3 separate regions of the Homo sapiens genome follow, and regions 1 and 2 are each linked to region 3. The links come from fine-mapping of genetic effects on gene expression. A gene starts in region 3. Each other region holds a variant in brackets. All regions are shown on one strand. Distances are between the middles of the regions.

Evidence for each region. PIP is the estimated chance that this variant, and not a neighbour inherited with it, causes the effect.
Region 1: its variant is fine-mapped to the expression of ATP8A2 in whole blood (TOPMed, PIP above 0.99).
Region 2: its variant is fine-mapped to the expression of ATP8A2 in whole blood (TOPMed, PIP 0.93).

The regions. Positions count from the first base shown.
Region 1 is chr13:26,017,015-26,019,770 of GRCh38, reverse strand. The region is part of intron 36 of ATP8A2 (ATPase phospholipid transporting 8A2); the gene reads right to left. Among named protein-coding and RNA genes, the nearest start is that of SHISA2, 34 kb to the left of the region's middle. The variant C/T (reference allele first, on the strand shown) is at 1,018.
Region 2 is chr13:25,884,194-25,886,949 of GRCh38, reverse strand. All of the region lies in intron 33 of ATP8A2 (ATPase phospholipid transporting 8A2), which reads right to left. Among named protein-coding and RNA genes, the nearest start is that of SHISA2, 170 kb to the left of the region's middle. The variant C/T (reference allele first, on the strand shown) is at 1,622.
Region 3 is chr13:25,370,690-25,373,445 of GRCh38, reverse strand. It overlaps ATP8A2 (ATPase phospholipid transporting 8A2), which reads right to left and starts at 1,472. Exons shown (of 37, transcript NM_016529.6): 1 at 1,158-1,472. The coding sequence starts at 1,233.

The DNA.
Region 1 (2,756 bases), 650 kb before region 3:
TAGCCTTGGATAGGTGGAGGCTTGAGATGAAGAAACCTGTGGCCATAGAGGGGCCGTGGCGGCCGTGTGCAGGCTAACTGGGGTCCCATGGTTCTAGCTGCTGATGCTGGGAAGGGAAAGCCTCTGAGGGTAGGTTTCCTATTTCTAGGGGGCTGCGGCTGAGCTCAGTGTGGGAATCACACACAGTGGGTCACTGGTCCCCGACTCCACTTTCCCACTGCCAATTAAGAAAAAACACTCCTGTCTGCCTGATGCTGTAGGGCAGCCAGCTAATTTATGAAGCTGTAAACATGCCAGGGAAACACACACACAACACTAATAGTGCAAGCTGGCAAAATGCACGTGATACCTGGAGCCTTCCTGTTTATTTATTTGAGACAGAGTCTTGCTCTGCCGCCTAGGCTGGAGTGCAGTGGCGCGATCCCAGCTCACTGCAACTTCTGCCTCCAGGGTTCAAGCAATTCTCCTGCTTCAGCCTCTTGAGTAGCTAGGGCTACAGGCATGCACCACCACGCCCAGCTATTTTTTTTTGTATTTTTAGTAGAGACGGGGTTTCACCATGTTGGCCAGGCTGGTCTCAAACTCCTGACCTCAAGCAATCTGTCCACCTTGGCCTCCCAAAGTGCTGGGATTACAGGCCTGAGCCACCACACCCAGCCCTGTTTTTAAATCAGACTGATCTGGACTGGTAATAAGTAATCAAAGTAGGGTTGTTTCCATGTAAAGAAAAAGGTTACACAATAAACTCAAAAGGAATTTAGTGATTGATTGGACCTGTGGCCATACAAAGACTATTCTTACACAATCAGTTCATATACTATTAATAAAATAAATAATAGCCAAGACTCATTAAATGCCATGTGTCTAAGACACTGTGCTATAAAATAAAGCTCATTTAATCCTCCCAGAAACCCTATGAGATAGGGGATTATACTCCTCCCACTTCACAGATGAGAAAACTGAGGCACAGAGATTTTTGTGACCTGCCCAAGGTCACAGACCTCGTGAGTGGCAGAG[C/T]TGGGAAGCAAACCCAGGGTCCACACTCTAGAGCTGAGAACCAGCTTTAGTGTTCACAAGCCCAGAGTGGGGCTTTTCTTCCAACTGGCCCTTCCCACAGAAAGACATTTATAAGGCCTGCTCTCCATTGGCTAACCCTTCTGTGTCAGGGGTCTGGAAAAGTCCCACAGCTCAATTAGACATTCTGGCCAAAAGACAACACAATAAAAAAACCTGACAATCTTGAATTCCATCCATGCATGCGTACAACTTATCAGGGGAGCTGTGAGTTCACTGTCATACTCTTTAAAAGGAGAAAAGAAGTCGAAAAGGGTGCCCATGAATCAGTTCCTGGACTGCCTGTTAATTTCCTGAGGCATCTGGCTTAAAAAGGAAATTTCTAGAGTATCAAGACATACAGTAACAAGACAGAAGAGTCCTCGTGGGATGGAGAAGAGGAGGAGACTTTAAAAGAAGACACTCAGGCTGTTTTCTTACTCTGTGTGTTCCCATAACTGAGAGTCCCGGTCCTGGGCTGGCTTCCTGGCTCTTCCAGAGAGCATGCCTTCTGGCCACTGCCTGAGAATCCCAAAGGCTCAGGGGGGTTATCGGGGGAGGCAAGGGCTTGTCTGCAGAGGTGGCCTGAGAGTTGACTGAGGACATGGGCTGAGCAGCAGGGAGGAGGGCCCAGACCAGTGAGGCCACAGGAGGAAGAGACAGTGGGCGGGAGAGAAGGTGATACAAGCTGAGCCAGGGTGAACAGAACAGAAGAGAACAGAACAGAGAGGAATCTTCCACAGGGGGCTTTTGTCTACTTGCTCACCTCCATTTCTAGCAAAACAAAACCTACAAACCAAAAATTCCCACCACATGGTAGCCACAGTGAAGCAGCTCCCAGACCATTGTGAGCCCTCAGACAGCTGGGTACAGGAGCAGGTGGGTGTCTGAGCCTGAAGGCAGCATCAGCCTGGAGGGGAGCTCCCTTGGGGGCGGATATGCTTGTGCCAGCCTTGGGCCCACACCTAGTGCACTTGAACTTCCTGACCAGGTAGGTGGCTGTGCTTTGATTCTCAGGGCTTTAGAGTTTTCACATGATCTGCTTTCAAGCACCGAAGAGCAAATGCCACCACTCCTGTTCTCCTAAGAGCTTTTGGATTTTCACCAAGTTGCTTAATCAGAGATTAGCAGCAGGGACAAGGAAACCTCCGTTGCCCAGCTTTGGAGGAGCTGCCCCAGCCTCCTGCCTCCCTCTGGCACCGTGTGGCACACACACTCTCATCCCCAATCCTGTACAAGCTGCCCTTTATGAAGCATTTTTACTGCAGTCCAAGAGGAGACGTCTTTCCTTGGGATGTTTCAAAGCAAAATCTAGCAAATAACACTGCTTCGTCTGCTCCAGTAACAAGGCTATGTACTGTGGTCAACTTGGACAATTTCCATTCTCCAGTTCTTTAACAAGGAACGTTTCTAGTCCACATCTGAAGTCATCCTGAGGGGGCCTGGCAGAACAGCAGCTGCAATGGCAGGGTCGTCACTGGCTCCACAGCTGCTGCACCACTCCCGGGGCTGCTCCTCAGTCCTACAGAAGTGGTTCTGAGTAAAGAACAGTCACCCCAAAGAATGGGACATACTCTTTTATAAACTCTTCCGGTGGGAAGCTGAGGACTACTGAGCTCTCCACCCTGAAGATGTCTTTCTCCACTCGCTTGTTTTCATCTTAGATTCTGGTGGCCCCAAGTGGCTGCAGCATGGGGTCAGGG
Region 2 (2,756 bases), 510 kb before region 3:
AGCAGACCAGCTGTTGTCAATGTGCCTGAGCTGATTACCCCTTTCTTCATAAATTTGACCCTACAATGAGCAACCAGCAATACCATGTAAATAAAGCCTATGTAGTACTAAGGGCTTGCAGAGTGGAAGCCACCTCATGTTTTTCTCACCATTTCCCACTCTCCTGGCAGTAATCTCTGGCGCTCCCTCTGGAGAAGGCCCTGAGTCTCAGCTGTTTTCCTATACGCTATGGAACAGCTATCAGATGGCACGAAGAGGCTCTGGGCTGCCACTTGGAAGAGATTTCCATGGAGTGGGCCTGGGAGATGCTCTGCCCCACGAAGCCGCGCTCTCAGAGGCTTCCCCTCGTGCTGTCGGCATCCAGCGCACATGGAGCGGGTGAAACCACGTGAGCGAGATTATAGCTGCCTTCCAGCCCCTAGCCTGGAATTAGTGACCTGTTTACAAGATGCATACCACACTTGCAGATGCGACAAAAATAGGGAGGGCAGCATTTGCCAGGCATTGTCCATAAAGCAGAGGCACACCTCCCTTCTAATTACAAAACACAAAACTCACACAGTCAAACCCAGCCAGGGCAAGTGCCACCGTTTCCACACTGAGACTCTTTCAGAACAAGAGTTAAGTTAGCTTTATGACCTCATCCCAGCAACAAATACGCTATTCCACCATCACCACCCCGACATTCCAACTTTTCTTTTGGGAGGGACAGGTGTCCTATTAAGTAATTTGGAAAGCTTAATGTCAGTATTCATTAGTTACAGATACATAAATATATATACTTTATCCAAGACGTGATATAACATTGCTTGTCAATTTCAGAACTAACTACTGTAATATTCTTGGAGGAAAAGCTTCTTTCAAACAAAATGCAGCTTGAATACAGTGGAGCATCAGCAGAAGTACAACATCTGCCTCTTGAAGAGCACTCTCAGTTATTTTCCCACATTCTCTTCAGTGAGGGTGTATTCTCACCCCCACCGAAATTCTCTCTAGAATTTCAAACCTGCAATTCCCTTTGCTTTTCTTTGAAAAATCCCTTCCTTCACTAGGGATCCTGGTTATTAACGGTTAATAGTGGATTACCCAGGGCAAGAGAGAATCGTGTGAGTCTAGATAAATAAACACATTATTAAGGAGTAATGCATGAAAACAAGCCATGTGGCTGTGTCAAAGAGGAGAAATGCCCTGGCTCCACAAATACCCTGCTCTGATTGAATTCCCCTCATATCAGTTTCTGATTGTTTAATTCTAAGAGAAACAAGACCATAGAATAAATAGGAAGAAAATAGCATAATGAAAAACAGCAGGACACTGCAATTTCTCTGGTTCGGGACTGATGTGCTGAGACTGCTGCAGTCGCCAACCCCGGGGGCTCTGCAGATGAGCTGGGCAGGACAGGCACTATTACCCCAGCAGGCTCCAGCCCTCCTCCCCAGCCTTTACGATGGCCTCTGTGAGAAGCATGCCAGCCACCCCAAAAGAAGGAGAGAGGGCCAGGGTCAGGAAAAGAGACATTAGAGAAAAGAAGCAAGCGGGCTTGGTGCGGTGGCTCATGCCTGTAATCCCAGCACTTTGGGAGGCCGAGGCAGATGGATCACCTGAGGTCAGGAGTTCGAGA[C/T]CAGCCTGGCCAACATGGTGAAACGCCATCTCTACTAATGATACAAAAATTAGCCAGGCATGCTGGTGGGCACCTGTAGTCCCAGCTACTTGGGGTACTGAGGCAAGAGAATTGCTTGAACCCAGGAGGCGGAGGTTGCAGTGAGCTAAGATCGCACCACTGCACTCCAGCCTGGGTGACAAGAGCAAGACTCCACCTCAAAAAAAAAAAAAAAAAAAAAAAAGCAAGCGGAGAAAGGAGACTGACTCTCAGGCTGGAGAGAGGAAGCGAGCCCTGGGCAGACCAGGACATGGAGGCCAGCTCAGGATAGTGGGCCCTGCCACAAAGTAACAGGAAGGCCATGCAGGCAAGGGCACAGCATCAAGCCCCTTACATCTCTGTAGAGAGTTCCTGTGTTCCCTGCAGAGTCAACAGTCGGCAGAGGCCAGGAGAGGGGACAAGAGTGGACTCGTCAGAGGTGATGCAGAAGGGCCCCAGGGATCTGGGATGGCTCGTGGGAGGAGGGCAAGTGCCTGAGTGGGGCAGGAGAAGCCGCAGGGGCAATGAAATCAAACTCTGTTCACCCAGGTGCTCTCATGTTTGGGCCCCATTCTCACGAATTTTACTTTTCAAAGCATGCTTAGGAGAGTCTCAGGCCAAGGTTAGAGTAACAGTTGAAGAGCTCAGAGCAGCGGGGACTGCCTGCATCTGACAGAGGATCAGGAGGGAGAAAGCTCATCACTGTCCCAGACCAGGCGATCACAACATCCTCTATCTTCCCAAGGAAGCTGCTGGGAAGTGCCAGCCAAAGCACTTCTGATTTTGGAGTGATCTCTTGCCTCCTTCTGCAGCCTGCCTTCTAAGAGCCTGCTAATGAGCAAAGGAAGCTAGAAGGCACCCGCGAGAAGTGGGAGCAGAAGCGGGGGATCTGCTTTATCCACAAACAAATTGGCCCTTGAATACTTGGGAGTGGGGCGTGTGGGTGGTGAGTGGCAGGGAATGAGGTCCCGACATGATTTCCTTCCTCCAACACTGTGCAGCCATCATCCCCAATCCCCAAGGACTGACATAAACTTGTTGAATCCTTCCCAAAGCTGCTGTGATGGAGAAGGGAACAGAGACCCATGTAACTCCAACTTGTCCTGGTTTGCTAAGG
Region 3 (2,756 bases):
ACCCTGCACCCCGTGACCCCTTCAGGCTGGGATTCTCCTCAAAATGAATGTGAAAGTGTCCTGACTTTACCCAAGTTTAACAAACATTGGCTTAAATTACCTGATAAGCTTGCTTCCCTCTCACGTTACTCAACTACAGAAATACAAAAGTCGCTTATTTTTATGTGCCTATTTTCTCAAAACAAATAAAAAAGCACGAAGACAAGTGACCCCAGCTCCAAACTGTACACCCTCTACCTTCCTCATGTCAAAGATCTACCTGCAAACTTGCCGCAGTCCTGAAACGGTAAGAAATCATTTTTGGGGCTCCTCTTTACGTCTGCATTAACTAATGGTCTAGGTAACCCTATCAAGTGTCATAGCCACATAACATCCAGCTCCACGACATCATAGTTTCTAAATGTGTTCTATAATCATAGAACGCGGGCCTCTAACAGTGTGAGTGGTCGGGTATGGTACATGCGTGTTTGGCTTTAGGTTTCGAGTTCCAACACCCAGGCGCCTGCAGGCAGGGTATGTGTACGCGTGCGTGTGTACGTGTGTGTGTACCTGTGTGTGTGTGTGCGCGCGCGTGTGCGTGTGTGTGTTCGTCTCCAGATGGTTGTATGCACGGATGGTTATGAGCCAGTACGTCGCCGCTGTGAGCGCGCGAGGACCCGGGGCTCCAAGTGGTGAGAATCACTCGAGGGACCCTTCGGATGCCTTTTTCCCCCTCTGCTTTTGAGCTCTGCAGCACAGCGGTGCCGGCCGCCGGCAGGGAAGGCTGCATCTTCTCTGCGCCGCCAAACCGTGCCCACCATCGCGGTGACTGCCGCCTAGGTCGCATCCCTGAGCCGCATCCGCGCGTAGGGGCGCACGGGCACGCGCACAGGGAGGCCGCACACACACACACACATCTGTACAGGGACGAGCCGGGGGTCTCTGACGCCCGCCGCTCACCTCGCCCCGGCCTGGAGCCTTTTGGCCCCGCAGGTGCAGCGACGCCCAGCCCCCGTGCGGCCAGCGCGCCGCGTCGGCGGATCCTGCAGCCCAGAGAGCCCAGGGAGCCCAGGGAGGGGAGCGGGGCGCGGGCGGGGCAGTGTCGCATAACCGCAGGCGCGCCCCGCGCCGCCCCCGCCCCGGGCCCACCCTCCCTCGCCGCGCCCCTCCCAGCTCACCCACGGACGAGCGGATCCTCGACCTCCGCGGCAGGGACATCTTAAGAGCTTTGTCCAGGCCTGCGCCGTTCAGCATCTCGCCCGTGTCGGGGGCTCGGCGGCCCCGGGCGAGAGACGGAGGCTACGCGCAGGGCTGGGCGCAGGGGCCGCCGCCCGAGGACCATGGGTGGGCCAGCGCCTCGCCGGGCTGCTAGCTGGCGGGGACCGCCGGCGCCTGTGCCGGGCCGCGCCCGAGGCTGCGCCGTCCGTGCCGCAGCGGCCAATGCGGCAGCATCCGCGAACGCCACCGCGGCGGGCCCCGCTGGCCCGGGCTGCGGCGTGGGGGCGGGGGACCGGCCCTGAGCGGAGCCCCGCGGGAGGAGGAGCGGACGGGAGGCTGGGAGGGATCCGCAATATTACGCAGGACCGGGGCTTTTAGGTGTCGGGGAAGGCGATGGGGAGGGCTTGGTGGGGTGGGAGATTGGGCCTGTACTTTCGGGGGCTCTTCCAGGAGAGGGGTGCACCTGGGGGACTCGGAGTCTCTGCCTGTCTGCTACCTATTTACCTGCCTGTCACTTGTCCTGTGCAAGTGGAGGCGCTGTGATTCCCCAGGACTCATCCAGTCCCTTTCTTTTCGCAGTTTCTGTTCTTCCGTGCCCAGCCTGGTGGGATCTGTGTAGGGACTTCGTGGAAGGGTTATTTCCAAGGTGTCTGATGTGTGGCTTGGCACTCAGAGAAGTCGGGGGTCTCCAGCCCCCCACTCTCCACAACCTGCCTGACATTCTAACTACGCATATTAAAGCTGCAGGTAGCCCTAGGGAACCTTAACAGCAACCTTCTCAACCCCCGCACGCACACACACACACACACACACCCATCGACACACACACACACACACACAGACCCATCGACACACACACACACACACCCATCGACACACACACACACACACCTTCTTTCATAAAACAAAACCATCGAGAGGTAAGATGACTTGTCCAAGGTCACTTGATCTATTTTTTGTTTTTTCTTATCGCGTAATGTTTAGACTGTGCTTGGTCTTTCTGGGCACAATCCCATGAAGATAAGAAGCTATCTTTATTGTGCCTGATGACATTCTGACCTCGGAGTAAAAACGGAACAAAACAAAAATAAAACTGTTCAGGTGAAAGTCTGACCTTGCTTTTACTGATGCGAGCATTACATTTCTTTTAACCTAAATTAACATTAGGGACTGACAAGGAGTAGTACAGAGTTCAGCAAAAAGAATCTGTGCTAGCAAAGACAGCAGTGCGGCCTGAGCTCCTCCTGCCTGGCCTCTGCATCTGATTTTATTTTCTTTTACTTTTTTTTTTTCTTTGACAGAGTTTTGCTCTTGTTGCCCAGGCTGGAGTGCAATGGCGCTATCTCGGCCCACTGCAACCTCCGTCGCCCGGGTTCAAGTGATTCTTGTGTCTCAGCCTCCCGAGTAGCTGGGATTACAGGCGCCCACCACCACGCCCAGCTAATTTTTGTATTTTTAGTAGAGACGGGGTTTCACTAAGTTGGCCAAGCTGGTCTCGAACTCCTGACCTCAGGCGATCCACCTGCCTCGGCCTCCCAAAGTGCTGGGATTACAAGCGT